Regions from separate parts of the Homo sapiens genome. Here regions 1, 2, 4, 5, 6 and 7 are each reported to be linked to region 3. Evidence: microRNA targets listed by miRTarBase, many of them from high-throughput screens and not tested one by one. Region 3 holds a microRNA gene; each other region holds the end of a gene's coding sequence.
What was found. The annotated mature microRNA hsa-miR-1976 reads CCUCCUGCCCUCCUUGCUGU and lies in region 3 at 1,643-1,662, shown strand. An mRNA with a match to its seed (bases 2 to 7 or 8) in the 3' UTR can be bound and repressed. Matches are read on the target gene's strand: a 7mer-m8 pairs with bases 2 to 8, a 7mer-A1 pairs with bases 2 to 7 and ends in A, and an 8mer does both.

Region 1: miRTarBase lists ZNF283 as a target of hsa-miR-1976. Seed matches in the 3' UTR shown: 7mer-A1 at 1,164-1,170 and 8mer at 1,046-1,053.
Region 2: miRTarBase lists RTTN as a target of hsa-miR-1976. The part of its 3' UTR that is shown has no 7-base or 8-base seed match.
Region 4: miRTarBase lists VN1R1 as a target of hsa-miR-1976. The part of its 3' UTR that is shown has no 7-base or 8-base seed match.
Region 5: the mRNA of CTC1 is a reported target of hsa-miR-1976. Seed matches in the 3' UTR shown: 7mer-m8 at 3,737-3,743 and 7mer-A1 at 2,100-2,106.
Region 6: the mRNA of SYAP1 is a reported target of hsa-miR-1976. Seed matches in the 3' UTR shown: 8mer at 2,112-2,119, 7mer-m8 at 3,725-3,731 and 7mer-A1 at 3,745-3,751.
Region 7: the mRNA of DCP1A is a reported target of hsa-miR-1976. Seed matches in the 3' UTR shown: 7mer-A1 at 3,093-3,099 and 8mer at 3,613-3,620.

What each region holds. Positions count from the first base shown.
Region 1 is chr19:43,848,060-43,852,673 of GRCh38, reverse strand. ZNF283 (zinc finger protein 283) reads right to left here. Exons shown (of 7, transcript NM_181845.2): 7 at 657-4,614. The coding sequence ends at 4,033. Among named protein-coding and RNA genes, the nearest start is that of ZNF283, 23 kb to the right of the region's middle.
Region 2 is chr18:70,000,421-70,005,034 of GRCh38, reverse strand. RTTN (rotatin) reads left to right here. Exons shown (of 49, transcript NM_173630.4): 49 at 799-2,004. The coding sequence ends at 884. Among named protein-coding and RNA genes, the nearest start is that of CD226, 55 kb to the right of the region's middle.
Region 3 is chr1:26,552,932-26,557,536 of GRCh38, forward strand. MIR1976 (microRNA 1976) reads left to right here and starts at 1,611; the gene lies at 1,611-1,662. RPS6KA1 (ribosomal protein S6 kinase A1) reads left to right here. Exons shown (of 22, transcript NM_002953.4): 7 at 460-566; 8 at 1,283-1,320; 9 at 1,665-1,807; 10 at 2,220-2,290; 11 at 2,606-2,694; 12 at 3,723-3,787; 13 at 4,067-4,169.
Region 4 is chr19:57,451,664-57,456,277 of GRCh38, reverse strand. It overlaps VN1R1 (vomeronasal 1 receptor 1), which reads left to right. Exons shown (of 1, transcript NM_020633.4): 1 at 1-1,488. The coding sequence ends at 853. Among named protein-coding and RNA genes, the nearest start is that of VN1R1, 3.2 kb to the left of the region's middle.
Region 5 is chr17:8,224,163-8,228,662 of GRCh38, forward strand. CTC1 (CST telomere replication complex component 1) reads right to left here. Exons shown (of 23, transcript NM_025099.6): 22 at 4,341-4,467; 23 at 653-4,157. The coding sequence ends at 4,018. It overlaps TRT-AGT1-2 (tRNA-Thr (anticodon AGT) 1-2), which reads right to left and starts at 2,146; the gene lies at 2,073-2,146. It overlaps TRS-AGA2-6 (tRNA-Ser (anticodon AGA) 2-6), which reads right to left and starts at 2,529; the gene lies at 2,448-2,529. TRI-AAT4-1 (tRNA-Ile (anticodon AAT) 4-1) reads right to left here and starts at 2,902; the gene lies at 2,829-2,902.
Region 6 is chrX:16,759,466-16,764,079 of GRCh38, forward strand. It overlaps SYAP1 (synapse associated protein 1), which reads left to right. Exons shown (of 9, transcript NM_032796.4): 9 at 767-4,614. The coding sequence ends at 894. Among named protein-coding and RNA genes, the nearest start is that of TXLNG, 25 kb to the right of the region's middle.
Region 7 is chr3:53,284,263-53,288,262 of GRCh38, reverse strand. DCP1A (decapping mRNA 1A) reads left to right here. Exons shown (of 10, transcript NM_018403.7): 9 at 1-198; 10 at 603-4,000. The coding sequence ends at 683. All of the region lies in intron 1 of LOC107986087 (a long non-coding RNA gene), which reads right to left. Among named protein-coding and RNA genes, the nearest start is that of TKT, 30 kb to the right of the region's middle.

The sequences.
Region 1 (4,614 bases), not on the chromosome of region 3:
TTGTTTGGAAAACTGTTCAGAAGAATTTAAACTTACTAAAAAGTTGAACAGATGTGTATCCATGACCACACCCCAGCAATTCCACTCCCAGTATATACAGAAAGAAATGTGTACACGTGTGCTCCAAAAGACATGTACAAGTATGATCATAACAGCCCTATAAGGAAGTTCTGACTTCCCAACACATTATTCTTAAGAGCACATAATGAAGGATTTTAGGGGCCATGCTGGGATGCGTCTTTTATGCGGATCTTGGCTAGTACTACATGGCTATGAAGGCTCCTTAAAGGAACTGTGCTAACACTCAATAAATCTGTTATGTCTGAAGTAGGAATTAAAAGACAAAAAAAAATGCAACAGATGGAACTAGAAAAGTGGTCAAGGATCAAACAAAATAACCTAATAGGATCATACAATATTAAAAAACAGGCTATTGCAATACCAAAACAAACAAAAATACAATAAAAAAGAAAACTATTATATAATCTCACTCATGAGATGCAAAAATACTAAATAAAATGGCAAAATGAAATCAAGCAATGCATCAGAAGGATACTATGACTAACCTGGAATATCCAGGAATGGGAAAAAGTCAGTGAATCTATCAGAATAAATTATCACATGAACAAATTAAATACTATAGAAGTGCAGAAAAAGATAGTGAAACGGCATTTAATAAAACTCAGGAGGCACCACTACTTAGCTACAACAAAGATTTTCACTCATAACTGAGACCATGATGCTGCCATTCCATCATAGCTAACAACCAGACATGGTGACTGAAATTCTCTTTTGGTTATAGCAGCAGTTCCCAATGCAATTTCACCCACCTACAAAGATAATAGGTCATGGGAATAAGTATTTCAACAGTGAAGTTTGCCATACACCAGTTTAAACAAAGTTCAACCATTTTCTTCACTAGAATACTCCTTAGTCTTTTTTTATTTTTATTTTTTTGAGACGGAGTCTCGCTCTGTCGCCCAGGCTGGAGTGCAGTGGCGCAATCTCGGCTCACTGCAAGCTCTGCCTCCCGGGTTCACGCCATTCTCCTGCCTCAGCCTCCCCGAGTAGCTGGGACCACAGGCGCCCGCCACCACGCCCGGCTAATTTTTTCTATTTTTAGTAGAGACGGGGTTTCACCGTGTTAGCCAGGATGGTCTTGATCTCCTGACCTCGTGATCCGCCCGCCTCGGCTTCCCAAAGTTCTGGGATTACAGGCATGAGCCACCGCGCCCGGCCGTCTTTTTTTTTTTTTCACTTCTCTTTAGTCTTTTGATAAGCTGGTGAGGTGCTTTTGCTTGTTCCTTAGGAGGGGATTTAGTAGATGCTACTTTATAAGCTTCTTTAACTGTAAAATCCTCCTTCATTGTCAAGTACTAGTAAGCACTGGTGATTCCTTGAGATATAATTTCAGAAATGTTGGGATAAGGCACCATGTCTACATTTCTTGGTTAACAGGCAAATGTGGCACCCAGAGGGAGTGGCATAATAGCCAGTTACCAATAATATATCCTGTTAAAACTCCCAAAGTACTCTGCTTTGTGTTACAGTTGATTATTAAGAGTGCAACTGTTGGCTTTTTATGCCTTTGAAAAAGTGCAATCATGTAGAATGATGATCACTAGATGGTGAATGACTGACTGAACAGTGATATTACGAATCCCCTATGTGCACAAAATAGAGAGGTCAGGTGTAGACCTATGACAAGGAACCACAGACATTTAGTTATCAATGCATTAGTTCTGATGGAACTGACATTATTTTCAAAAAGAAATAATTTTTAAAAGGGTCGATTTCTAACTGTGTGAGTATATAAACACACACTCTATTTCTTCATAACTAACCTGCCTTGATGCTAGCACTAAATCATGACAGGCACCTGGTTGAAAGTGGTTGCAAGAAGCCATCAATTTTAAGATGCATTGTGATTTCCAAATAGTAAAATATAGCCAGGCGCAGTGTCTCACACCTGTAATCCCAACACTTTGGGAGGCTGAGGCAGGTGCAGGAGTTCAAGATCAGCCTGGACCAACATGGCAAAACCCCATCTCTACTAAAAATACAAGAATTAGCCAGTATGGTGGTGCACACCTGTGTATCCAGCTACTTGGGAGGCTGAGGCACGAGAATCACTTGAACCCGAGAGGTGCAGGTTGCAGTGAGCCGAAATCACACCACTGCACTCCAGCCTTGGTGACAGAAAGAGAGATCCTGTCCCAAAAAAAAAAAAAAGTAAAATACATACCATATGATCACACATTTCCAAAGATCATTGATCAAGGCTGACCAATCCTATTAGGTATATAATGGATCTTTATAACAGACAACTCCAGTAGTTACCATAAGTGATCAAACTTGGCACTGGTGATACTGGGGGAAATGGATACTATCTGCTTCTGAGGTATTGCAAGATGAAGTACACATCACCATCTATGAAGTGTTCTGGTAAAAAATGTTTAAGCCTCTATTTCCAACTTCATGTTACGAGAAATGTGAAGGAGAGGCCCATATCAAATTTCACCATGAGGAATGAAACTAATGTGTGACATTCTATAAAACAGCTTTCCTAAACTCTTCAAAAGTCTGGATTTTTTCAAGTCTCATTTTTTTAGCTCAGCTTAAGGGATAAACTCTGAATTAAAATCCCCTCAAATTCTTTATACTGTACTAGATCTTATCCAGAATGAACTATCTGAAATTCAAATGGATGAGTGGTTATGGGAAGCTTTTCTGAATTCATTCCTCAAAACGGTTGTGCCTCTCCTAAGAATTCACCAGTAGTAATACTAATAATAAAGACAATATGAACAATAGCTAATATGTATTAAGCATAGGCTACATACCAGATACTCTTCCAAGGATATGATGCATACTAAATCCATCTAATCTCTGTAACAGCATTATTAGTTACCATCAGCATTTGAAACATCATGTCCAGAAGAGATAAGCATTTTGCTCACCATCCTACAGGTAGTATGGAGGTGAAATGGTGATGACAGTATGGTATTTGCCATGGATAAGGGTTTTCCTACATTTGTTACATTAACAGAGTTACTCTCTAGGATGAACTTACTGAAGTTTAACAAAGACTGAATAGTGTTGGAAGGCTTCTGCACATTTAACATATCTGGTATAAATTATCTTATGCTGTTACAGGCATTAGAAAATTTTGATTCCCTCATTTGCCAAATCTTGCTATAGTATGAATATTCTGCTATTCTAATCAGAGAGGTGCAAGTGAAGAATTTCTTATTTAAATTGTCACTTGTCTCATGTCTTGAAAAGTGTGAGTCTTGTCTCAAATTATTTCTGGGAAAGAACAAACTTTGTTTTCAATTCTCAATCATTTATGGACTGATAATTTTGTAAAACAGAATGTTATGGAAATGTCAAATTGCTATAAAAGTTCCAAATATTTACTCACTTTCCACGTTTATCTCACAATTGACAGATGACAATTTTATGACTGCACCAGTCTCTGGATAATAATTTGGGTAGCATTTGTCTAAAGGCCTTCCTATAATTCTAATTCAAATGATTTCTCATTTGGATGAATTCTCTGATGTACTCTAAGATATTTACTGTGTCTATAAGCCTTCCCAAATTCCTTATGTGCATAGGATTACACAGCAGTATGAATTCTCTGATGTGCAGCAAGAACTGAATTAAGTTTAGGTCCTTCCCACATTCCTCCTATTTAAACTCTTTTTAACAAATACCAATTATTTGATGTTAATCAGACCTTATGTCATGAATGAAGATCTTCACACATTCCTTACATTTAAATGATTTTACATCAGTATAAATTGATATCCAATAAGACTGTACAGAAGTCTAAAGGCCTTTTCATATTAATTATATTCAAAATATTTCTCACTAGTATGAATTGCTGGATAGCAAGATAATTGCCCATAAACAGAAATGAATGGCTTTTGCACAACCCTTACATTCACAAGGTTTCTCAAGAGTAAGAGTTCTTATTATGATAAGTTGTCTATACACACACACAAAATATTCTTTTACAACTTTCAATCATAAGGTTTCATCAGTATCAATTTTCTCATTTGAGTAAGTTGTCCACAGAAAGGCTTCCCCACATTCGTTATATTTGTAGGGTTTATCATTACTATGAGTTCTCTCATGAACAAGTTTTGAGCCACAAGTAAAGGTCTTCCCGAATTCCTTACGTTGATAAAGCTTCTCACCAGTATGAAATCTCTGATGAACACTAAGTTGATAGCCACTACCAAAGGCCTTCCCACAGTCTTTACATTCATAAGACTTCTCATTAGTATGGACTCTCTCATGCTTAACTAGGCTTGAACCCCAACTGAAGGCCTTCCCACATTCCTTACATTTGAAAGGTTTCTCACCGGTATGAATTTTCTGATGTTGAGTAAGGTGATAGCCACGACTAAAAGCCTTCCCACATTCTTTACATTCATAGGGTTTCTCCCCTGTATGGATTCTTTCATGTTGAACAAGGCTTGATCCACAATTAAAAGCCTTCCCACATTCCTTACATTCATAGGGTTTCTCACCAGTGTGAAATACCTGATGTCGAGTAAGTTGATACCCACTACAAAAGGTCTTTCCGCATTCTTTACATTCATG
Region 2 (4,614 bases), not on the chromosome of region 3:
TAGATGAAGGTTTAAGATGTGATTGCTTCTAAAAATGCATCTGTGATCTTCGTCTTATTTTTGTACTAAATTTTCTTTGCCAACAGTGACCACTGTGCTGAAGTATGTTCTTAGTGATAAGAACTGGCCCAATTAGAATTAACTGTGAGCAGAAAACCTGGATCTAACATCAGGGAGCTGGAGGACAGTCTTCCAAGAATTGATCCTGTTACCCTTATATCCACGTTTCCCTGTGATGTGGTCACAATACTAGAGACGGTTTTCTTTTCAAAGCACATTATTCATTTTTAGTGACACCAAATTTCAGTGAGCGTTATTCTCTGAACATTTTTTATGCTAAAACACTGAATTGTGTCTTTCCTGTACTGTAATATATCTGTTGGTTATTTGTGTTTTTATAGTCTGATTTTTTTTTTTAAGCAGGGGAGGTTTTAGTTTGTTTTAGCTGCGACCATGAATTTCTGGAGCTAGTGAAGTTAAAGATTATGCTTTAGGAAGGATGGTACATAAAAAAAGATTAATGGCATTCATTTGGAATTATAGTTAATGGTATCCATTATGGGGGGTACTTTTTAAAAAATACTCTGGGTAAGCTGTTAATTTAAAAAAATATTGATTTTGTAACTTGTTTATTTTTTAAAAAATGCAAAATATTCTGGAATGCTATTACATCAAGAACTTAGAGCTTTAAATTATATATAAATCCTGTTCATATGTATTTGTTTATGTGTGTGCCTCCTAAGTATAGTACCAAGTTTCATAAACTAGTATTTCTGTACTCTTATTTTTCTATCTCAGCTTTCCCAAACTCAGAAGCAAACCCTCTAAATGCCTATTATTTGAAATGTCTTGAAAACCTCGTGCAGCTCCTTAATTCTTCCTGAGTGCCATGGGATGCTACACCTTGAAGCTGACAGTCATCAACAGGGGAGCTAAAGTTGAAGCCAGCTGTGTGTAGCAGCTGTTACCTGAAGACGTGCTACCTCTCTACAAAGTGTTGATCCCCTTCTTTCCCATGAGAGAGAGAACTGGTGATACTCCAACACCGTCCAGTTGTGGCAGCTCTCCAGAAGTAATAGCAGCTGACAACTTTCTGTGCCTTTTCCTTTCTGTTGAAAAGGCATAGAAAGTTCTGGGAACATAAACATTTTTACCCTTTTCTATGCCATTTATTTTGTAAAAATCCTATTTAACAGTTATTTAATAAAACAATATTTTTAGAAACTAAAAATTGACTAATAATTGCTGCTTACAGACTTTTATCAGTCTCATGAATATTAATTTTAGGAGTTGAAATAAGACACTGTGTCCTGGTTGTTTCTCTCTTTTTTTAAATTTTAACTGATGTAAAATTTGGCTCTGTCAGTGCAAATCCTTATTTTCAAAACTTTCTGTTATCCAGAGCATCCACACTGGAAAAGGGCTATGTAGAAGTAAGTGTGCATTATTTGTAAAGGGCTGTGTGGAAGTAAATGTACATGATTTGTAAGTAGCTTTCTTAGGCAAGTTTTAGTGATGTTATCTTCTTCCTAGATGACTCTTAAATCATTACATGTATAATCTTCACCGTTGTCTTCTGCAAGGCTGTGTAATAAAGAAGAAAGAAATAGAGTTGGGGCTGTATAAGCCTGGGTTCAAATTTAGCTCAGCCCAAAACATCATGAAGAATAGAGTAAGACTGAAAAATGCAGAAGATGGCCGGGCTTGGTGGCTCATGCTTATACTTTCAGCTCTTTGGGAGACCGAGGTAGGTGGATCACTTGAGGCCAGGAGTTTGAGACCAGCTTGGGCAACTTGGTGAAATCCCATCTCTCCTAAAAATACAAAAATTAGCCATTCCTGGTCTTGAGCGTCTATAATCTCAGCTACTCCAGTGGCTGAGGCACGAGAATCTCTTCAACCTGGGAGGCAGGGAGGTTGCAGTGAGCTGAGATCATGCCACTGCATTCCAGCGTGGGTGACAAAGCAAGACTCTGTCTCAAAAAAAAAAAAAAAAAAAAAAAATGCAGGAGGAACAAGCTCTATACTCTATTACATAATCTTACTTAACCTGTAGTTTTGAATTCCGCACTTAAACCAAAATCAAGTACTAATCACTTTCAGCAACTTTCCCAACACTTTTGAAAGTGAGAAAATTGTGTGTAAGAGAAATAAAAGGTGAAGTATTAATATATATATGTTTGTATATACATATATGTCATATACATGTATACATATATATTCATTTAGGATAATGTTTTCAGAAAAACTGAAAGAAAAATATCATTTTAAGTGCTGTTAAATTGCTAACAGCAATAAAATAAGCAATGATGTTATTTAAGCTGGAAGTATGACAAAATTTATGTTAAATACAGAAATAGTAACAGTTAAGTTTGTAATGTCTGAGAATTAATTGATTCGAGATCTGAAAAATAAATCTAGGAAGCTCAGAAGTTTCTGAGCTGCCCAAGTTAATGTGTAGCGGAAAACTCGTCAATTCTGAGAGCAGGAATCTTGGGAATTATTTTTCCCTTTTCTCCCGATATCTTATATTTTTTGCCATTTTTCTGGAATTCTCTAATCAGCCCTCACTGATAAATAAATGAAATGAATTTCTAACTCCCTTCATAACTCCTTTATAACTCCTCCTTCTATGTCCCAGCTATTATTCTCGGAACTTTTATCATTTAATCTATCTTTTTCTAAAATACTACTAATGTCTTTGTGTTCCAGGTGAATAAGCGGAGGCGCAGAGCGGTTAAGTAATGTGCTCATTGACTGTGGCTGGTTATCAGTGAAGTGGAGGTTGGAACCCAGGATAACTGCGAAGAAGTTTGCTTTTCTTTATAAACCACTTTTCTTTATAAACCATTTATTCTGCCCCTCTACCACCCCCACTGAAATATCTCTTTTTGTGTTTGAATCTTATAGATAAACACCATTTTTCAACAAAAATTTGTTCTCTTCAGGGAAATTATATTATGGTTCATTGATTGACTGATTCACATATCAGAGTAGGCACTACCTCATCTTCTTGGAACCAGGAAGAATTGTTGTAACTGATCATTTTCCCTAGCAGTTCACAGTAGTACCAGAGGGAGATTTGTAGCCTAGTAGTCAGAACCACCCAGAAATGTTACCTGCCAAAGCCCAGGAGGACTGCAGACCTTGGAGAAAGGAGAGGGGCCATGGCTTTAGGGGAACTTGCGTTTGCCTCTCTTGGTGTCCAGGAATGTGAAGCTCGGGTGCACGCTGTGGTCCAGATCCTGGGGGACAGTCCTTGCAACTGGGTCTCCTGGGATTATGCACCGTCAGCCAGTGGGGAAGACGTCTCAGCAGGAGCCTTGAGGTGACTGGCCCACTGCTGTAGCAGCTGCCCTGCCTCTCCCTTGCGGACCAGCATCAGAATCCTCAGGTGTGTGCACTGAAATGCAGATTCCTGGGCTCAATGAGGCAGACTTGTGTCTAGGAGAATTTTTAGCAAGCTCTCCAGGTTCTGCTCACCACAGTTTGAGAACCACTGATTAATCCCCATGATTACAGAAAACTGCCTAGAACACGAAAATTATTTCATATCACTTAACTGCTGCCTGATGAAATCAGGACTTGAATCTGGGTCTCTTGAATGTGAACCAAGTATTTTTTCTTTCACACCTGCCCAAGTTTAAGCAAGGATCCAGGAAATAGGTGCAGGGGACTAGTTCATACTTCATGGTGTCCAATTTCTCCATATCCTAGCATTTTTGGTGGGCTGAGTTAGTGTATGTGCGCTATGGAAGCACAAAAAGGTAGTGCCACGTCACACATGAAGTGCAGACATTGATACTGAGGCTTCTGGGCTTAAGACTTGAGCAGTTTGAGGGAGGAGGCAGCCATTAGTTTTGAAAACAGGAAGCTAGTAGGAAAGTGGTGTTAGCAGACCTGGCTAGACCCTTTTGCCACTCTTCCTAAAAACACTTACAGAAATGAATAGCTGAATGTACCTCTTTTTTTGGTGTTCTATAAATAATGGAGCAAAAAAAAAAAAAAAACAAAACAGAATTTTGCCTATTTAACTCCAGATCACCAATTTTCCTTTGTAGTGTTAAATGGACTCTTCATCCGTGTCATTTTGCATCATCAGTCTTTGGGGCTGCACCTTGTGTATTCCCCATTTCTTGAGGTTGCCAGAGCCCCAGGTCTGCTTCTTGACCCGTGATGTTCCTCGGATTTGCCAGAGTGATGGGTAAGAGTAATGACTGGCATCCCCGCTTCTGCATTAAGATCTGCTTGCAGTTATCTCAGTGAATGAGAGAGCATAATAGAGCGGTTAAGAGTAGAGGGCTCTTGAGTCCTGTGGACCAGGAATTAACCCTGGCCTCACCACTGCAATTGTTGGAAACCTGGGACAGGCTCAAGCTAACTGGGGTTGAGGACACCTACCTTGTGCAGTTGGTGAGAGGACTGAGTGCTTAGCCTGGTACATAGTTATCCCTTAGATGTTATCAGTGATTTTTTATTCTTACAAAATTCTCAAAAACATCTGTTTAAGCAAAAACTTCAAATCTTTTGTGTCCTTGCAAACTTTCCTCCCCTCTGGGAGGGGATGTGCTGGAAAGTGAGTTGGGCTGTGACAACTAAGGTTCCAGCATCCCA
Region 3 (4,605 bases):
CATGTTTCTTTTGCAAACAAATCCGATATATGTTCATTCCTACCCCCATTTCCTTATGTAAAAAGTACTATTCTGTATACACTGTTCTGTACCTTGCTTTTTTCAAGATAGTATATCTTGGAGCTCACTCCATGTCAGAACACGGAGAAACTCCTTGTTCCAGTTCATGGCTGCAAAGCACTCCATTATGCAGGGGAGAGGGCTGATTCCAGCCTTCTACTCTTGGACCCTAGGCCTGTTTCCCACCCCTTCTATTTCTGAATGGTGCCACAATGAGTGGCTTGCGTATTAGTCATTTCATACTTCAAATCCTTTGTATGATGAGAAGGCTATATGGCCTGGGGTTTCCAAGGGTCCTCCCAGGGTGGCTCTTCAGGACCAGGAAGCTGCTGACTGCCCAGTGCCCCAGCTCTTAAGGAAGAGGAGGTCCCTGCTGAAGGCCCCTCCTGTCTTTTGCAGGTGATGTTCACGGAGGAGGATGTGAAGTTTTACCTGGCTGAGCTGGCTCTGGGCCTGGATCACCTGCACAGCCTGGGTATCATTTACAGAGACCTCAAGCCTGAGAAGTGAGTGAAGCCTCCAGCCCCACCCCAGCCTCCCCAGGGGAGGCCTCTTCTAGGACAGGGCCATCCTGAGGTGGGTGGGCATGGCTTTCTCCAGAAACGTCTCCCTCTCTTGGGCAATCTGAGGGATGGGTGAGTGGGGTGGGTGGTAGTGCCAGCTGCCCAGTCACTAATGCTACCATTACCAAGGGCCAGGTACTTTGCATGCAGGTAATGTTGCCCGTCTTTTTTTGCTAATCTAGTGTGACATTTGAGATGCCACCTTTAGAGGTCTTTCCTTGATAAAGCCCTATAGAATTTTCCCTAATATCTAACTACCCTCAAATGATAACTAAGGAGCCAGGGGCAGGTGGTGAGTTGGAATAAGATCTGGCTTTAGTGTTAGGCAGCCCTGTATTCAAATCCTGTCTCCACCTACTAGCTAGACTTACTAGCTCAATGACTGTAGAGCTACTTAACTGCCCTGAGCCTTAGTTTTCCCATTAGCAAAACGGGGCCCTAATAGTACTTGCCTCACACAGTTGCTTCAAGGATTAGCAAAAAAGATAGGCAACACCCCTGCGTGGTACTGCTACCACCCTGCAACACCCGCCCAGTCATCAGAGAGAATTGGGTGGAGCACCTCCTCTGGGCTGAACCCAACTCCCACAGCCCTGTGGTAACACCATCACCCACACGGCCACAGCTGAGGGGCCCTGACCACTATTTCTCTATTACAGCATCCTTCTGGATGAGGAGGGCCACATCAAACTCACTGGTGAGTGGAGGGCGCCTGCCCCCTCGGGACCCAGGGGAGGACAGGACAAGGTCATGATAGGTCTCGGCTGAGTGCTGGGGGCTCATTCTTCCCGAGAAGCCGTGCCAGTTACTTGGAAGTGGTCAAAAACTCAGGCCTCAGACTTGGAACACCCTCAGCTGGAATCCCAGCCCCTCATTGTGTAACGTTGAGCAAGTCACCTGACCTCTCTGGGCCTTAGCTTCCTCCTGAGTGTCATGGGGGTGATGCCTTCTGGCCTCTGGGCACGGGGGTTGGGTGTGCAAAGGGTGGCAGCAAGGAAGGCAGGGGTCCTAAGGTGTGTCCTCCTGCCCTCCTTGCTGTAGACTTTGGCCTGAGCAAAGAGGCCATTGACCACGAGAAGAAGGCCTATTCTTTCTGCGGGACAGTGGAGTACATGGCCCCTGAGGTCGTCAACCGCCAGGGCCACTCCCATAGTGCGGACTGGTGGTCCTATGGGGTGTTGATGGTGAGTGCCCAGACAGGGGTAAAGGATCCAGCCCAAGCCTCTGGCCTCAGTCTCCCTATCTGTACAGTGAGGGGGTTGATCATTTCTAGGGCTCTCCCCGTCTCCTCTCACAGCCAAGCTGGCCTCACCCTATATGCACCTGCAGTTTTCTTCCTTGGAAGGATCCCAGGCTTGACCCCACCTGGGACGCGCCTAACCCAGTGCTGGCCTTCTCCCCAGCCTCGCGCCCCCACCGCTGCTCCTGGTGGTCTGGTTGGCAGAGGCAAGAGGGACGGGCATAATTCTTGCTCCAGGCTGACTTGGATGTATCAGCAAGAATCCTGGGACTGGGGCAGAGGGGTCTGACTGGGAGGAGGCGGGAGGTGTGTCGGAGACAGGGATCAGAGCCTGAATAGATCCTTGTCCTCTGCAGTTTGAGATGCTGACGGGCTCCCTGCCCTTCCAGGGGAAGGACCGGAAGGAGACCATGACACTGATTCTGAAGTAAGCCCCAGCCCTGCCCTGATAACAATGGACTCCTCCAAGCCCCAGCCCCAGTTTGGGGGTCAGAATATTATTACCCTGTCCCTGCCTCAGCTACCCTCTCTAATGAGACTCTCCTCTGGGTTAAACATTATACCTTCCAGAGCCCCTCTTTCATCCCTGGGGGCCTGTGGGTAGGATCCCTGAAGCCTTTGGGAAGTGAATTAGTGGATGGCTTGTCTAGACTGAGCTGGGAACTAGATCTGGACAGGGGCCGGGGGAGATGGGGCCTCTGGGGCAGGGCTCAGCCTTGATGAGTCCCGGGGGCTGTTTCAGGGCGAAGCTAGGCATGCCCCAGTTTCTGAGCACTGAAGCCCAGAGCCTCTTGCGGGCCCTGTTCAAGCGGAATCCTGCCAACCGGCTCGGTAAGCAGCCCCAGCTCAGGGGAGGGGATGTGGCGATGGGGAGCCGGGTACAGCTGCAGCCTAGGCCACAGGGCCACATCTGGGCTGAAAGGGGCCGTTGTCCTTTGTGTGGGCAGACAATGCCGCGGGCCACCCTGCTTTCTGGCTCCATGTGTGGTGTTGTGGAGGGGGGAGTTGACCTGTGTGTAGGGGGAAGGCAGGAACTGAGTCATCCCTACTCCCTCTGGGGACAAGGACAGAGGCCCCCACACAGCTTCTCCGCCAAGGCTGCTGGCACAAGAGAAATAGCATGAGCTCAGGAGTCAGAAGGCATAGGTCCCAATCCCGGCTCTGTGTCAGGTCCCCACTGCCTGGCACAAAACAGTCCCTCTATAAATATTTGTTAAACGAATGAGGCCACTTATGAACTAAGTGACCCCAGGCAGGTGACTTCACCTCTCTGCACCGCAGGTTCCTCGTCTCAATGGGAGATGATGATCCCAAGCTTGCTTCAGGGCTCTGTTGATGAAATGAGGTTGTGTGAACATGCCGGCATGTAGTAGGTGTCCAGTGTGTGCTGGCTTCCCTGGCTCCTGGGTTCATCTGGTCCATGACCAGCTGTGTAAGGTCCAGTCAAGGCCCCTGGGGTCGAATGGAGTAACAGCCTGTCCTATGGTTGAAAAGGTCAATGGGATAAGAGGAACAGAGATGAGGCTTGCCTTGGAATGAGGTGGGGCTCTCTGTAGGTCTCAGAACAAGCTCAGCTTCTGTTCTAACTGTGTGGCCTTGGAGAAGTTGCCTAAAGTCTCTGGGCCTTCCTCCTCCCACTGGTACATTGGAATTTCTTCATCAGAAGCTCCAGAAAGTGGAAAATGCTGAGTAGGTGACAGGCCTTAGGGTGATGGCTGGGTAGATTTGAGGCTGAGTGAGCCCATTTTCCCCTCTGCTCCAGCAGCTGGTCCCAGAGCCCTGTGAGGCTGCTTGGTGGGCAGGGTAATATCTGGGACTTGTGCCAGCCAGGGACAGACCCTTCATTTGGGCTCTTTCAGGCTCCGGCCCTGATGGGGCAGAGGAAATCAAGCGGCATGTCTTCTACTCCACCATTGACTGGAATGTGAGTGTGTCCACCCACACCAGGGCTCTGGCCAGGGCTCAGCCATCTTGGCCACAGGAAGGGTGGTGGGAGGGGAGCCTCTGCCAGCGAGGGCCCCAGACGCAGGAGCAGAGGGTCACAGCCTGCCCTTGAAGACAAGGGCTGGCCTCCTGAGGGCAAGCAATTCCGAGAGCTGGGCAATATGGCCTATGTTCCAAGCCCAGCACCTCCTCCTGCATGGGGCTCCTGGTGGGCTGTTGAGGATGCCATGGTGACCAGAGTGCCCACCCCACTGTGCAGAAGCTATACCGTCGTGAGATCAAGCCACCCTTCAAGCCAGCAGTGGCTCAGCCTGATGACACCTTCTACTTTGACACCGAGTTCACGTCCCGCACACCCAAGGGTGCGTCCCTTATCTGTTTTGTCTGTCTTGGGCTGGTACAGGAGGGAAGCCGGGAGTCGGTGGCAGCTTGGGGGGCAGAGATAGTCAGGGACACTGACAGGCCGAGGTATGCGGGTGGGCAGGCGGGTGAGTTTCTGGCTCCGTGGGACTGACTTTGTCCCTGTCTCACTCCGCCCGACTCTCTCACTATGGGGCTCTGTGGGTCTCTTTGTGTCTGGTGAGAGAGTGGGAGTGGGGATGTGTGGGTGGTGAAGGCCACAGTAGAAAAGCCAGGACCCCTGCCCGGGGCACCTTCCAGCCCACTGGGAAGACCAAACACATCAGGCTTACCATCACGTCAGGGAGAAAGAATCTGACCCAGCCACACTGTGTGGTGGCTGAGCAGAGGTGACAGTGCCCATAGGTCAGGGACAGGCATGGGAATCAGCTTTGGCTG
Region 4 (4,614 bases), not on the chromosome of region 3:
TAACTTAATTTTGTTCACTGGACACAAGCTGAGACCCACGGACTTGATTCTCAGCCAACTGGCCTTGGCTAACTCCATGGTCCTTTTCTTTAAAGGGATACCTCAGACAATGGCAGCTTTTGGATTGAAATATTTGCTGAATGACACTGGATGTAAGTTTGTCTTTTATTATCACAGGGTGGGCACAAGAGTTTCCCTCAGCACCATCTGCCTTCTCAATGGATTCCAAGCCATTAAGCTCAACCCCAGTATATGCAGGTGGATGGAGATCAAGATTAGATCCCCAAGGTTTATTGACTTCTGTTGTCTCCTCTGCTGGGCCCCCCATGTCTTGATGAATGCATCTGTTCTTCTATTAGTGAATGGCCCACTGAATAGCAAAAACAGTAGTGCAAAAAACAATTATGGATACTGTTCTTACAAAGCATCAAAGAGATTTAGCTCATTACATGCAGTCTTATATTTTTCCCCTGATTTTATGAGTTTGGGCTTCATGGTCTGGGCCAGTGGCTCCATGGTCTTCTTCCTCTACAGACACAAGCAGCAAGTCCAACACAATCACAGCAACAGACTCTCCTGCAGACCTTCCCAGGAAGCCAGAGCCACACACACCATCATGGTCCTGGTGAGCTCCTTTTTTGTTTTCTATTCAGTCCATAGTTTTCTGACAATTTGGACAACTGTAGTTGCAAACCCAGGCCAGTGGATAGTGACCAACTCTGTGTTGGTCGCCTCATGTTTCCCAGCACGCAGCCCTTTTGTCCTCATCATGAGTGATACTCATATCTCTCAGTTCTGTTTTGCCTGCAGGACAAGGAAAACACTCTTTCCTAATCTGGTTGTCATGCCATGAGTCTTTTCTCTTCATGGAATTCAGCTATTTATCATAACTCTTGCTAAGATTTAGGAAATATTAACTACTAGTTATTTGTGATAGCAACATACACATGGCCAGTAATGCTCTTGTCCAGGAAGATCTAATACCAGAGCTAAAAATGAAAGTCATGGATACTGTTACACAAAGAACACTCTATATAACTGTGTTAAGTCCTTCAGACAAGTTCAGGAAATCAAAAAGTTTAAAAAGGGAATTCTTTAGAGATTTAGGGGAGATTTCTCATTTTTGTACTATGAAGAATCATGGAATGTTTTAAAAATATTTTTAAAGCACAGTTTGATTCAGGTGCTTCTTGAACAGCATAAATCCCCTGGAGAGTCCACATGTAAGAAAGACATGTGCAGGCCGGGCACAGTGGCTCACGCCTGTAATCCCACCGTTTTGGGAGGCTGAGGCACTCCCAAATGCCTCAAGTGATCCACTCAAGATGACTTGAGGCCAGGAGTTCGAGACCAGCCTGGCCAACATGGCAAAAACCCTGTCTCAAATACAAAAATTAGCCAACCATGTGGCACACACCTGTAGTCCCAGCTACTCCAGAGGGTGAAGCACGAGAATTACTTACCAGCTTGGGTGACGGAGGGAGACTCAAAATAAAAATAAAAATAACTAAAAGTGGCTGGGCACCGTGGGTCACGCCGGTAACCCCAGCACTTTGAGAGGCTGAGGTGGGCAGATCACTTGAAGTCAGGAGTTCAAGACCAGCCTGGCCAACATGGTGAAACCCCATCTCTATTAAAAATACAAAAATTAGCCAGACATGGTGGCAGGTGCCTGTAATCCCAGCTACTCAGGAGACTGAGGCAGGAGAATCCTTGAACCCAGTAGGCAGAGGTTGCAGTGAGTCGAGATCCCACCACTGCACTCCAGCCTGGGAGACAGGGCAAGACGCCGTCTCAAAAAAAAAAAAAAAAAAGAAAGAAAGAAAGTGCTTCTGCACTCCAGCCTGGACAATAGAGCAAGACTATCTAAAAAAAAAAAAATTAAAAATCAATATCAAAATAAATGAGTATTCTCATAAGCAAGACAAGCCTAAAGAAATGTGAGTACTAACTGTAATGTGGTTACATTTAGAGACACATGAAAAAAAATAAATAAAAGAATAAAAAATAATAAAATAAATGCAATGTGGTATCCTAGGTGGAATTCTGGAACAGAACATGTATTTTGGTAAAAACTGAGGAAATCTCAATCAAAGATGTACTTTAGTTTAATAATGTATCAAAACTGTTTCACTAATTGTAAATAATGCTGTATACTAATATATGACTATATATTAGTAACAACTAGGTGTGCTTGTAAATGAGATATCTCTGTACTATATTTGCAATTTCTCTGTACATCTTAAAATGTTCTAAAATTAAAACTCTATTAAAATAGAAAAATAAGATTTTTTTTTAAAAAAAGGGAAAAGATTTAGAAATTTGGCCAAATATACAGATAACAAATAAGCATATAAAAACTTATTCAGCATCATTAATTATTAGAGAAATGCAAATTTAAAAACCACACTGACCACAACACATCTATGAAAATGGTTAATCTTTAAAATACACCATAACCATCATGGACAAGGAGGTATAACAAATGCAATTCTGCTAAATATATTCATATAAACACTTGTATATGAATGTTCATGGGTCTTTGTTAGTTTTTTAGTCCAACACTAGAAACAATCAAAATATTTATTAATAGATTAATAAATTGTGGTATATTCAATGCAATACTCTTCATCAACAAAAAATGAATACGCTTAACATGTATAAATATCAAAAAATGCTCCATATGAATGTAATGTAGGATTTCATTTGTATAAGATACTAGAAAATTTATAGGCCGGGCATGGTGGCTCACGCCTGTAATCCCAACACTTTGGGAGGCCAAGGCAGGTGGATCACTTGAGGTCAGGCGTTCGAGACCAGCCTGGCCAACATGGAGAAACCCCCGTCTCTACTAAAAATACAAAATTAGCCAGGCGTGGTGGCGCATGCCTGTAATCCTAGCTACTCAGGAGGCTGAGGCAGGAGAATCGCTTGAACCCAGAAGGTGGAGGTTGCGGTGAGCTGAGATCGTGCCATTGCACTCCAGCCTGGGCAACAAGAGTGAAATTCTGAGAAAGAGAAAGAAGAGAAGAGAGGAGAGGAGAGGAGGAGGAGAGGAGGAGAGGAGAGGAGAAGAGAAGGAGGGAGGGAAAGAAACAAAGAAAAAAGAAAAGAAAAAAGGAAAAAGAAAAGAGCAGGAGGGAGGGAGGAAGGAAGGAAGGAAAGATGTATATAGTGACATAAAGTAAACCAGTGGCTACCTGAGCATAAAAATTTGGGTAGGACTGTGAGCGAGAGAGAATAGAAAAGGGTACAAACAAACTATTGAGGCAATGGATATGTTTATTATCATGACTTTGGTGATTGTTTTTATATATTTTACACTTTAACAATGTGCAACTGAATGTCACTAATACCTCAATAAAGCTGTTAGAAAAGAAAAATTCCAAATAAAATCTGGATTTCTCAATCCTCTTTTATAACCTCTGGCAAAGCTGTGTTGATTCCATCATTAGCCTCTCCTCATGTCTTACGTGGGTCAACTCTGATTTTATAGTATCAAAAACTGGAAGCAATGTTGTTGGAAATTCAGAATCTCGGGGAAGAAGAACTGGAGACAAGGAAGGTTATGTCCACCTGAGTCACCAGGAATTATGTTTAGGTTTAAAAAAAAAAAAGACTTATCTCAGAAGTATAGAATCTCCCTTCATTCAGTCATGAGGCTCCTACCTGTGCAGTAGTGGTTTGAATTAACAGGCTTTATGTCTGTGTCTGTCTTCCACTACTATAGCAAAACACCACAGATTGCGTAATTTATAAAGTAGTTTGTTTCATACAGTTCTGGAGGCTGGGAAGTCCAAGGGTATGGCACTGGTATCTGCTTGGCATCTGGTGAGGGCCTTGTTACTCTGTCATAATATGACAGAAGGGCAAGTGAGCATGAAAGACAGAGACAGCTGATTTTATAAAAACGTCACTCTCGGGTTAACAAACCCACTCTTATGATAAAGGCATTGATTCCTTTATAAGGGCAGAGCCATCATGACCTAATCACCTCTTAAAGGTCCCATTTCTCCACACTGTTAAAATGGCAATTAAAATTCAACATACGTTTTATAACGCCAGAGACACAAGAATCCATAACACCTTTGGATTACTTGCTCTGACAATGACTTTGCCTACAGGAGATACACACGTCTGTAGGTCCTCAGAGTTTCTGTATACCCTCATCTCACATAGCCATAGTTACTGAAACATTCATGGATGTCTCTTTACAAGGCGCTCATCCATTCCACTCTAGTTTGCTGGTGTCTCATACTTCATATTAATACAATCACTGTTTCTGTACAGACTATGGTTCCCAAACTGCTTGCTATGGTTTGACCATCTCCTCCAAAAGTCACATTGAAGCTTAATCTACAGTGTGGTAGTACTGAGAGGTGCGACCTTTAAGAGGTGATTGAATCATGAGGGCTCTATCCTCAGGAATGAATTAATCAATTTATGGGTTGATAGACTAATGGGTTATCCTGGGAGAACTGGTGGTTTTATAAGAAGAGAAAGGGCCAGGGGCCGTGGCTCTTGCCTGTAATCCCAGCACTTTGGGGGGCCAAGGCGGGCAGATCACCTGAGGTCAGGAGTTCGAGACCAGCCTGATCAACATGGGAGAAACCC
Region 5 (4,500 bases), not on the chromosome of region 3:
CAAGTCTTTGAGATGGGTAAAGAGGTTCTCAGGGCTGATCTGGCATCTCCTCCCCCATTCCTACCCTTTTCCAATTCCTGTCTCCCTCCCCTTGGGCCCCAGCTTTCTCTGCAAAATAATCCAGTCACCTCTTCCCTGGCCTCAGGCACTTAAACGCTGCAGAAGGGGAGGCCTAAATCCTTTATGACCCTTATGAAAGCTATGTCCCTCTTCACCGGGCACAGTGGCTCACACCTGTAATCCCAGCACTTTGGGAGGCTGAGGTGGGTGGATCACAAGGTCAGGAGTTCAAGACCAGCCTGACCAAAATGGTGAAACCCCGTCTCTACTAAATATACAAAAATTAGCCAGGCGTGGTGGCGGGCGCCTGTAATCCCAGCTACTCGGGAGACTGAGGCAGGAGAATTGCTTGAACCCGGGAAGCGGAGGTTGCAGTGAGTCAATATTGTGCCATTGCACTCCAGCCTGGGTGACAGAATGAGACTCCCTCCGTCTCAAAAAAAAAAAAAAAAAAAAAAAGCTATGGCCCTCTTCCTAAACATGTATACAATCCAGGGAGTTCACACATAATCCCATCCACATACCCCACACTTTATTTTTTCCTCAGAAAAGTGCGTACATAGACCCCACTTTTAATAACCAAGAACTAACAAACAGCTGATCATTCGTTTATTTTATTTCATTTTTTTGAGACGGAGTTTCACTCTTGTTGCCCAGGCTGGGATGCAGTGGCGCGATCTCGGCTGACAACACCTCCTCCCCCCTCCAAGGTTGAAGCGATTCTCTTGCCTCAGCCTCCCAAGTAGCTAGGACTGCAGGCGCCTGCCACCACGCCTGGCTAATTTTTTGCATTTTTAGTAGAGACGAGGTTTCACTATGTTACCAGGTTTCACTATGTTGGCCAGGCTGCTGGTCTGGAACTCCTGACCTCGTGATCCGCCCACCTTGGCCTCCCAAAGCGCTGGGATTACAGGCGTGAGCCACCGCGCCCGGCCATACATGGCAAGTTTCTACATGGTGTTTCAGACTTAGCTGATCACCCTCTACCCTCAGGCCAGATTAGATTCCACTTCTCCCTGTTCTTACAGTGCCGTTAGTGCTGAAAGGGGAACGTGCCTTGTTCATTTGGTTCTGCACAGGGTCCAGCCCAGTGCTTGGCACAAACGTGGTCTCGGCAGTGCTGCATCCCTGGCTTGACCTGGAGGTAGCAATTCCTTCAAGCCATTTGCTCATCTTACATTGGTTCGTGGGCCATGGAATGGTGTCGAGAGCTTTCTGCCTATCTTCCAAGGAGGTTTAGGTCCTGCCAAGAGCTCACAGATCCTATTTCTTGCCTTATCTCTGGCATTTATTTCTTCCTTAACCAGCCTAGCTTCAGTGCTCCAGAAAAGTGCCCTGCCCTTCCACACCAGGATCCCTAGCGACTCCCGAATGATGCTTTCTTGGACTCTGTTCACATGGCCTCAGCCCTTCTGCACCCTGCTGCACGAAACCTGGTGCCAGGCCAGGCCAGGCCAGCCGGATCCCTGCTTACTCCTTACCCTGACATCCCGCTGGTGGAGAGGGATGGAGGTAACTGCAAGTGAAAGACCAGTTAGAGGACCGCATCTGGAAGCTGTGCCAAATTTTAAATACTGTATATTTAAATATATATTTTTATATTATATACTATATATATAACATTATGAGCCACCAAACCCAAAGAACTATAATGAAGAGCCAAACAAAACAAAGTGGCTCAGGTTCTAGGGGACGTCCTAGGGTGGAGAAAGAGGCCTGGAAGGTGGGCAGCCCCTTCCATCGAGGGTGGGGCGGCCGCCTGACCCAGTCCACCTGCACCAGTGGGGTGTGGCATCAGTTAAGCAAAGGACCCTTAGGCCTATGCAACATTTCTGCCCCTAAGTTAGAGAACCACCTTTTAGAGTGGCGATCTCATGGGAGTGGCAGCTTGACTCTGCAGGAAATGTGGGTGCTATGAGTGCAGAACAGAAACTCTTACGCGTTCTGATATAAAAACAATACATGAAAGGATGTGGATTTAGCCGCAAAATCACGCTGTTTCAATTGAATAAAGGCACCGCTGGGATTCGAACCCAGGATCTCCTGTTTACTAGACAGGCGCTTTAACCAACTAAGCCACGGCGCCGAAGCTGCCATAAAGGTTCCTGAAATTCATCTACAAGAATATAGAGCTAGGAACCCGGACCGAGCTTTTTCAGATCTTTCTAGAACTAATTTGGTAACTCAACTGGCTCTTGCATCACTTGTCCATTCCTCGGATTTCCTTCAATGTCCAAAGACGTTAATCATAGATTTCAAACCAAAATCATAGACTCTAAATCAAATTCTCGATTCTAGAGTTCCTAGATGAGAGGTTTGGAGGGTGCCGACTGGATCATCCCATCCTGGAGAGAAATATGGTCAGTATGCTGAAGAAAAAAATATGACGTAGTCGGCAGGATTCGAACCTGCGCGGGGAGACCCCAATGGATTTCTAGTCCATCGCCTTAACCACTCGGCCACGACTACGAGGCTTAGGGCTTCGTTTTCATCCAATGCCTTTCTTACTTCCCTTGACTGACAAACATCTGCCTCCATGAAAGCGCTTCAGGGAAAAAAAGACGCGGCGGTTGCACGTGAACCTTCCTTTCACCCGGGTGCCCAGAGACTCCTCCCTCCAAGCCTTCGGGAGCGCTAGTGATTCAGGGAATAGGAAGCAGTAGGTGCAATATAATTCTGTTACCAGAAGGCAACTGGCTCCGGGTAGAAACTTCCGGATAACAGCAGAGGGTCAGAAAACAAAACACACACAAAAAAAAGCCACCCACTGGCCCGTACGGGGTTCGAACCCGCGACCTTGGCGTTATTAGCACCACGCTCTAACCAACTGAGCTAACCGGCCACTAACTTTCCGGGTCTACTTCAAATCTTAATATAGGGTATTGCTACCATAAAAGCAGCATAAATCCCAACATATGGGTTTAACCACGCTCTAAAGGTCTCCCAAACACGAACAAATCCTAACAGCCAGGAAGAAATGGCCTCCCAGTAGCTCTGAAAGATGTGCCTCAGCTCATCTTTCCACCTCTCCATCTATCAGTCCCCAGTAAAGAAATGCAGCAACACCAGCCAAAGGCATTGGTATCTCCAAAGAATTGTTCCTAGATCCCCTAATTGTACGGTTGTGATTTCGGAGCACCTTCTGGTCTCAAGGTATATCGATCAAGGATCTGCCTTAGGCCAGGCCCTTGGGAAACCTACAGGGCTAACCGTAGCCTGGGGCCCTATAGCACAGTCACCCAGAGTCCTCACCTGCCCCTGCTTGTGCCTGGCACTTGCCTCCCCCTACACCTTCTTTGTGCTTGTGAACACCTCTAGGCATTCATATTTGACTTCCTGCAGGGCCCAGCCTTACTGACTGAGACCATCATAGCTATGCTCTCTGCCTTGCCGCCAACTCCCCAATTTACTTCCTTTACAGACTGATTTTGGTACCATTTCTTCTGCTGGACGAAAAGCTCTTCTCTTCCAAATCACTTTCCACCTTTGGCCCTGGCGGCAAAGGGCTGAAATGATGATGAACGACTAGGAGTTCCTAGGAGGTGGACAACTAGGAGTCAGGAGGCCTGGGACCCCAGAGATGAGTACCAGTGAGAAATGACACCAGAGGGCTTCATTGCAGGTCAATAGGCCTGTCACCATCACCCCACAGCGAGCAAGTCTTTTGTTCCCTCAGCTCCTGCGACAAAGTCAGAACCCAGGTGCTCAGGGCCGCCTGTGAATGCAGGTGCCTTGTCCCAATCAGAGGACATATTAATAGGGCCATGATTTCCTGTTGCCACAATTTTGCCAAGGCAGGCTGGCACCAGAACACCAAAGAAGGGAAATTATAGTGGAGTAGCAGTTTGTGAATCTGGAGTCCTTGGTTCAATCACAGAACAAGTAGGGAGAGGAGCCAGGACCTAGGCCTTCAGGTTTTCAGCAAGGAAGGACTCTCAGGCCATCCTTGCAGTTCAGTTAACAGGAGGAAGCAAGGATCCCCAGAGAGCTGGAGTACTCTGACTCTCGGATAGAAAGGCAGGACAATCGGAGCCTGGGGTTCACGTGAGTCAGGAAAGGGAGCTCTCCACACTGGAATCGCTGTAGCCGAGGAGGTTCTGAGGTGGGAAGAGAGGAAAAACACACGTCTCAGGCATGTGGCTTTTAGTTCCCACCCACCATTCTCCTCCCTAACTCCAGAAATTCCCCATCAGTCCCTCATCCCTCTTCCTCCCAGGGACCCATCTATCTCTATCACCATGATCCCCCTATCATCATGATCCCCCCGTCTCCAACCTTACCTAATGGGACGATCTTCGACGGTTTCCTTTCCAGCTCAAAAGAAAGCACAATAGGACGGAGGACAGAGGGGCTAGTACAAAGTGTCCAGAGGAACATGGTCATGGGCTCGTCAACCCTGGCTGAAGACTAGAAAGAGAAGGTCAAGGTTAACTGGCTCCT
Region 6 (4,614 bases), not on the chromosome of region 3:
ACACACACAGAGGTATATTGAGTGTCTGTGTAGAAAGTTGCAGGTCTAAATCTCAACGCGGAAGACCAGTGTGAGAGCTCCAGTCAGAACACCATGAGAGAGTCCAGGCTGACTTCAGACCCCGGTGTCTGTCTCCACTCTTAAGGAGACAGCTCTTTGTATAGTGGTTAAGCATAGACTGTGGAGCCTGCAGATGTGGTTCCATCCTTATATCTGTCGCTGTCAAACGGTGTGATCTTGGGCAAGTTGCTTAACCTCTCCTAAGTCTCCATTTCCCTATCTATAAGATGTGGCAAATAGTAATACCTTGTCCATGGACTGTTCCAAGGGTGAAAAGCGTGATACATAGAAAGCAGTTGGGCCAGTGCCCAGCCCAGTAAGTGCTCAATAAACATTAGCTGCTTTTGCTACCATCATCATCATTGGTAGTGGTAAAAATTAACTTGCAACCAAGTATTAATTATCATTTACCCATTTAAATAAAAGGAAATGCAGAGGCATAGGGAAAGCAAAATAACACCCAAAATATATTGATGACATCTGATACCTTTGCTTCTACATTAACAGATTTATCTTTCTAATTGTGTTTATCCTTGGTCACTGTTAAAATTTACTGAGTTTTTCTGAGCACACATAGTAGTGAAGCCTGAGATACTAAAAATTACAGCAGCTAGGACTTTACGTAGGTAATTGAGATGGACCGAATTGTGAACACCAGCATTATGAATTCAGAGAGAATCTTTTTCTTCTCCTTTGTTTCTTTTAGAGGATTCTGCAGATTGGGAAAAAGAACTGCAGCAGGAACTTCAAGAATATGAAGTGGTGACAGAATCTGAAAAACGAGATGAAAACTGGGATAAGGAAATAGAGAAAATGCTTCAAGAGGAAAATTAGCTGTTCCTGAAATAGAAGAATAATCCTTAACAGTCTGCAAACTGACATTAAATTCTAGATGTTGACAATTACTGAATCAGAAGGCATGAAAGAGTATAATTTTATGAAATTCAAAATTATTCTTTTTTCAAGTTGAAACTTGCCTCTTCTACTTTAAAAAAGTATATAGAACAGTTACTTCTAATAATCAGAAAGAGATGTTTTATAGAACATTTCTTTAATATAAAGTTAGAGATGTCTTCATAGGCAGTATGGCTATCTTTGCCACAGAAACATAAGTAAAATTTTAGAGTTCTGTTTTCCATGAGGTCAAAAATATAATTTATTCCTCAGTCATGGTTTTCTAAATATCTGTACTCCACATTCCATTTTAATTGATATGAGGGTGTTAAAGTACCTACTTAATGGGTTGATTACTATCAAAATGACCAAATTATACCAAAGAACTTAAGAGGAAGCACTTTCAGAACTATTCACTTGCCAGGTATTTTCTAAAATTCCACCTGAAAGCCAAAAGATAAAATAAATAAGTTGATTTTAATGATATAAGCATCACACAATTTTACATTAAGAAATACTGTGCAGGCCATGCGTGGTGGCTCAGGCCTGTAATCCCAGCACTTTGGGAGGCCGAGGTGGGCAGATCACCGGAGGTCAGGAGTTCGAGACCAGCCTTGCCAACATAGTGAAACCCTGTCTCTACTAAAAATACAAAAATTAGCCGGGCATGGTGGCAGGCACCTGTAATCCCAGCTACTAGGGAGGCTTTTGAACCCAGGAGGCAGAGGTTGCAGCGAGCTGAGATCGCGCCACTGCACTCCAGCCTGGGTGATAGAGTGAGATTCAGTCTCAAAAAAAAAAAAAAAAAAAAGCTGTGCGAAAATATTTGTTTTTCTCTGGGGCCTTTTCTTTCTTTTCTTTTTAAACTATACCAGAAATTTTACATCACAGTTTTTATACAAAGTGGGACCTTCCATACTTTTTGTATTACAATAACCTTCAGAAGCCCATTCCCCTTAAAGTCTGTTGTTCTTGTTTTAATCATCACCACATATAAATGTTTTAGCTTTGTCTTAAACTGTGAGTCTTCATAAAATTGTGTTCCTCCGAGTTCACCTTCTAGGACTTTATTGATTAATCCTTCTCTTTCTGCTATACCAGCAGACACATATTCATAGAATATGATTATTTTTAAAGAACAAGGTGAGGAGGCTGAGGCAGGAGAATTGCTTGAACCTGGGAGATGGAGGTTGCAGTGAGCTGAGATCACGCCACTGCACTCCAGCCTGGGTGACAGAGTGAGAGACTCCGTCTCAAAAATGAATGAATGAATGAATGAATGAATGAACGAACGAACAAGGTGGTTTAATGTCAGAAAACTTCCTAAGCATTTGCTCCCCAAACCTTTCATGTTTTTCAAGAAGCCTTTATTACATAAAGGGGAATAGAATTAAAATGTTTCTTTATAAGAAAAATATACATATTTGTGTTCTTGGCCCCATTAAAACTAGTCAGTAGTCCTTTGGCAAAGATATAGTCAACAAGAGAACTGGGTATGAGTCCAGGCATTACTCCTGTTCATAGTTGTGGATGCATGTGTCTGAGCCAGACTGTCTCAACTGGAGTCTCTTGGGTTATAGCAGTAAACCCGTGTATTCCATGAAACCACTGGGCCCATCATCAAAAGGTTTCCACTTGTGGTGCCACAGTTGCTTATTACTGAGTTTGGGTTCCAAGATGACTGGCAACTTCTGAAATAATCTCATTGAAGGAAAGAGTTTCATTTTTTTTTTAAAAGAGTTTGCTGGAGGAAAAGAAGCATGTTAAATGTTTTTAAGCAGCTAAAAGTCCTAGATGGAAGCATATCAGGATGTGTCGGTGCTTGGCTCTTAGTGAATGCACTAAAATTCTTATTGATAAATGTTGAATAAACACACACAAAAAAGTATCAGAGAAAGAGAAAAACCCTACAATGGCAATAGAGGTGTGTGACAGTTATTGCTATCAATTTTACATAATATCTCATTTAAAAACAACCTAATTATGCATTGCCTGTGAAAATAAAAGGATAAAATAAGATTTTGTACATACTGTAAGAATACAGTTGTGCTGTATTTTTATGGATTCATCAAGGAGTAAAATGTTCTGCTTTAGTAAATTATATAGGTAACTGAAGTGTTATTCCTTTAAAGAGCAAAATAATTTATCACCATGTTTGGTGGAAAATTTCTAAGTATTTATTACATGCCTAGGGGTTAGCCAACAAGATATACCAAGCATGAAAACCTGTAAAACTTAATAAAATGCTAAAATATGAACATCACACTATGGAGATTATGCCTCACTACTCAAAGAGTGTGGCTCAGGAACCAGTGTAGCTTGGCCATGCCCTGGCAGTATGTTGGAAATGCCTGCCCCAGACCAGTTGATGTTACTAAGAACGCCCAGGGGATGAGAATGGACTTTATTTACAGTTTGGGAAGCACTGGTCTAATATGCTCTCAGGGAAGCTGAGGTTTCTACTGCTTTTTACTTTTTACCCTTCCACTAGATGTCCTTTGCAGCAGTGTTTTTCTAGTTGGCATTACAGGTGTCTCCTCTGAGGTTCCAGTTATTTCTATACTACCAAAATTAAAAAGACCCAAGGGCTGGGCATGGTGGTTCACACCTGTAATCCCAGCACTTTGGGAGGCTGAGGCAGGCAGATTGCTTGAGCTCAGGAGTTCAAGACCAGCCTGGGCAACATAGGGAGACCCCTGCCTCTACAAAAATACAAATGAGCCAGGTGTGGTAGCCCACACCTGTGGTCCTAGCTACTTGGAAGGCTGAGGCAGGAGGATCGCTTGAGCCCAGGAGATCCAGGCTGCAGTAAGCCATGATCATGCCACTGCACTTCAGCCTGGGTGACAGAGACTCTGTTTCAAAAAAGGGAGGGGGGGCAAGTTTTTAGGGGGATGAGAAATATTCTTGGTAAATCGGGCATTTCTTTTTTTGTTTGTTTTTTTTTCTTGGAGACAGAATCTTGCTCTGTCACCCAGGCTGGAGTGCAGTGGCTTGATCTCAGCTCACGGCAACCTCCGCCTCCCAAGTTCAAGCGATTCTCCCACCTCAGCCTCCAGAGTAGCTGGGATTACAGGCAACCGCCACCATGCCCAGCTAATTTTTTTGTATTTTTAGCAGAGATGGGGTTTCACCGTGTTGGCCAGGCTGGTCTCAAGCTCCTGATCTCAAATGATCCGCACGCCTTGACCTCCCAAAGTGTTGGGATTACAGGCATGAGCCACAGCCTTAATTGGTAATTTTTGAAAAAAAAACTAGAGAAACATTGTTTCAGAGATAAAGCAGCAATTACACTTGTACTCCCAGTGATTTAAGATGCACTATTGTAATCAAGATGATTTGCTTTAATCAAAATATTGTTAAAAATAGGATTTCAGGACATTTAAAAGGTTTCAGCAGAAATCTTATGATTATGTCTGACTTGCAGTATTTTATTTGCCTCTTTGACGGCTTTTTTTTTTTTTTTTTTTTTGAGACAGAGTCTCACACTGTTGCCTGGGCTGGAATGCAATGGCGCAGTCTCAGCTCACTGCAAACCTCCGGCTCCCGGGTTCAGGCAGTTCTCCTGCCTCAGCCTCCCTAGTAGCTGGGATTATAGGCATGTGCCACCACACCCGGCTAATTTTTGTATTTTTAGTAGAGACAGGGTTTCGCCATGTT
Region 7 (4,000 bases), not on the chromosome of region 3:
ACTGCAACGACCACTGCAGTGTCTTCAGTCCTGCTGGCCCCAAGTGTTTTCCAGCAGACAGTTACAAGATCTTCGGACCTTGAGAGGAAAGCCAGCTCCCCTTCTCCTCTAACTATTGGAACGCCAGAAAGTCAGAGAAAGCCTTCCATTATTCTCAGCAAGTCTCAGCTCCAGGATACATTAATACATCTAATAAAGGTATGTAGGATACCAATTTTATCTTTGATTTTTCATTATTTAATGAAAGAAATTTTATAAATTCCTCTTACAGAATCAGTTCATAAAGTAAATTCAAAAGACTAGCTGGAGGCCAGGCAAAGTGGCTCACACCTGTAATCCCAGCACTATGGGAGGCCAAGGCAGGCAAAAAAAAAACAAAAACAGACTAGCTGGGAGTACTGTTTCTCTTTTTTTAAGCATACAGTCCTGGTGGAGAAATATCTGCATGAACTCAAAATATTAATCATGATTGTCTCTGGGTGGTGGGATTATCAGTTATACAAATCATTTATACAATTTTTTTCCTAAGCTGTTACCAAGGAAGTAAAATCTGATGAGGTAAATGTGGCATTCGTATCCTTAACCTTTACCATCTCTTCTAGAATGATTCCAGCTTCCTCAGTACACTTCATGAAGTCTACTTGCAGGTTCTGACCAAGAACAAAGACAACCACAACCTATGACTGGAGCAGAATAAGTCTAAAGGCAGAGCCCCAGCCTCAGAGACAAATAGGCTTCATCATGGAAACTTCTGAGCAGAACATTGAGTTTGAGAATCCTGAAATTGAGCCTATGAGAAAGAGACTCATTTCTTAAGAATGTTTTCCAAGTGACATTCTCAGTGATAATGGAGGTTTCACTGTGAAGCATCACCAGCAGATCCTTGTTTTGACAAAAAAAAAAAAAAAAAAAAAAAAAAAGAGAGCGATCATTGTGTTAAGTTATGTGGGTGTTTTCATCAGCTAGGAGCAAGGCTGTGGAATAAGGAGTCAGATTCTCAGCTTGCTTTCACTTTCAAGGACTTACAGAGGAGTAGTCACCAGCCTCACAGCAGAAGTTCAGCCCGGCCCCCACCGCTTCCCCCAGCCTACCCCATAGAAACGGGCTTTGGGCTGACAAGTCAAGTTTTGAACAGAGTAGAAGGCAGCTCTGCAAAGTAGCTTCTAGTTTTTAGGACCAGAATTTAAGCCGGCAAATTAGGAATTATTTCCTCAAGTGAAGTATATTTTATATGAATGCCCCATTTGGGCCTTAAAAGTTGTGAAATTTCTTAATAGCATTTTGTTTTTAAGTGCCCCAGTCCTGCCCTGCAGCAGGCCCCCAGTGCAGCATTACCATTTGAATAGGGCACTGTCAGGCTCTGGTGGTGTGGACACAGGCATGTCATACCTTTGAAGGAAAGGCTGGGGCTGGGAATGCCCACATCCTATCAAATCTTCATTTTAGGTTAAACTCTCCATTGGTTCTGAAAATGCTAAGTTTGTGTGTGAAGCACAGCCTTATTTTCCTTTTCTGTCATTGTTGATTGTTTTCCTTAACACTTTGACAAAAGGACCAGTGGACCAATCTGACAAAGCCATTCTGGTTCCTTTCCTTGAGTGTACTGAGAATAGTTTTAAAGCTATGCAGAAAAGGGAGCTGTTATTCACACTGCCCTTATTTTGTTGTAGAATTATGGAGTTAAAAGAAAATGTGATTCCGAACTCTACCAATGTATTCCTAGGCTGTGAGTACTTTCCCGGCCCAAAGTGTGAAAATATGTAAAGAAGCTTTGTTATGCTGCTATTGATCTGCCATGATTTCTATTTATTCTTTTATGGCATGTAATGGTGTTTAGTAATATTTTAATGTAGATTTTGATTTATTTCAGCAATAGTAATTTTAAGATATTCTTTGAATGAAAGTGTCTTCGTTTCTATGATACAGGTCATTTTGTAGTATTTAACCAATTAAGATGCACTGCTTACTTTTCTGAGCACTATTTAATGATGGGGTAAAAACCCAATTGGCTCAACCAGCTAGCATAAGGATTAGCTGTGAATAATGCTGACAGATATGATGGTTCCTTAGGAACAATCATTTAAGCTTTAATGGTAACTCAATCATAAGTCCATAGATTATTTTTTTCTAGCTAAAATTTTAGAAAATTACTTGTGAATTACATACTTGTTTTAGTTTGGTCTTAGTTTTTAGCATAAAGAATGATTGGCTTTTGTTGATCTAAACATGCTTCCTGGACAGGGTTTCTGCTTCTCATTTTAGTGTCTTCTATTGCTGTCTACCTAATTATGTGTGAATTGTGCAGAATTCAGGGAAGCTTATAAGTTTTCATGCTCAATTGTGAATAGTTTGTTTTCACAGATAGTATGTAAATTAAGCAACCAAAAATGAATTCCTTATGCATCATCTGGGAACGAGAAAGCTATAGTGGGATACAGAGTGTTGCTGACACCGGGAGATGGTGTCCAGGGAGCCACGTGACTTCCATAAAGTGGACGCACCAGTAGGTGTGATTGCACCTCAAGTGTAGTCTCAGTGGGCTTCGGTGAACAGACGAATCAAGGGATTCTTGAATCGAAATTATGCTTTTGAGTATGTAATATTATGAGAGAGTTAAGAGAGAATATCCTAAAGAGAGTCTGTGATCATACTAATTTTCACCTTTAATGCTAGGAATGGATATGATAGACAGTAAAGAGCATCTATGATAAGGCTTCCTTAGTGTGAAAGTAAACTTAAGTGCCCAAGTCATGGAGACTTGAAAAGGGTAAACCTGTTTCACCTCCCAAATTTATATATTCAAAGTATTTACTTAAAATTCAGAAGCCAGAAGTTCATGTCATGATTACCAGGAAGTTCAGGCCAGAATGAATCCCTAGAGAAGCCAGGCCAAGCCTGGATAATTGCAGCTGGATGACCCTGGCCCGAAAGTCACAGTTCAGTTGCCTTATTCCTAGTTCAGGCTTACTATCTAGAACCTCATGCTAGCTTAGGTTGCATGTTTACATTGCTGCAGTGTCTTTACTGGAAGCTTAGTTGGATCGAAATGGACACCGAGATGGAGATGCTTCTGGCTAGATTTCGCAGAACCCCAGGAGACCTGCATTTAGACCACTCTGTCCATTTGTGTGCCCACCCCCACCCCCAGGGTCTAAGTGTAGACTCCAAGAGGAGCAGCCCAGAGCTTGGAGGAGAGGTGTGTCTGGGGCACCACTGGTGGGTGGTGCTGCTCTTCTTTTTGTTGTAGTTAATGCGGTGTCTTTTAATGGACTCTCAGGCCTCCCAGACAGCCTTGTTCCTTTAAGGCAGAAGCTCTTCTTCATTGTGTACCTCCTGGGATTCATGAGGTGTGAGATTTGGCCTGCTTGACTTTGAATTCAAGTTTTTCAAGTGACTCTCAGTGTCAGAAGAAGCATTTCATGCTGTCCACATGTGGTATGTCCACAGCTCACCTTCAAAGGCTTAGATGTAGCCATCACAGAGAGTGGTATTTTATTAAGAACCCAAGTCCCAGCCTGACCAACATGGTGAAACCCCATCTCTACTAAAAATACAAAAATTAGCCGGGCGTGGTGGCACGCGCCTATACTCCCAGCTACTTAGGAGGCTGAGGCAGGAGAATCACTTGAACCCGGGAGGCAGAGGTTGCAGTGAGCCAAGATCACACCACTGCACTCTAGCCTGGGCGACAGTGAGACTCCACCTCAAAAAAAAAAAAAAAAAAAAAAAAAAAAAAGTCACGCTGGGCCCCTCTCTACAGGGGGACACACAGGCTTAGTTTAGTATATGTCTAACCAGATTTTGCATGTCAAGCATTTGTCCTTTTCCTGGCTTATGTTTTCTTGTAGAAATTATATAAACCCTATCAAATCCACTACTAGGTAAATTTTTAAACCATGCAGCTTTATTACTCTCCTCCCCCAAAGAATGTAGTTTGAAATTTTCTCATTTCCATAGTAGAGGCCCTAACTGCCATTGTATTACTAATAATGCAACATGA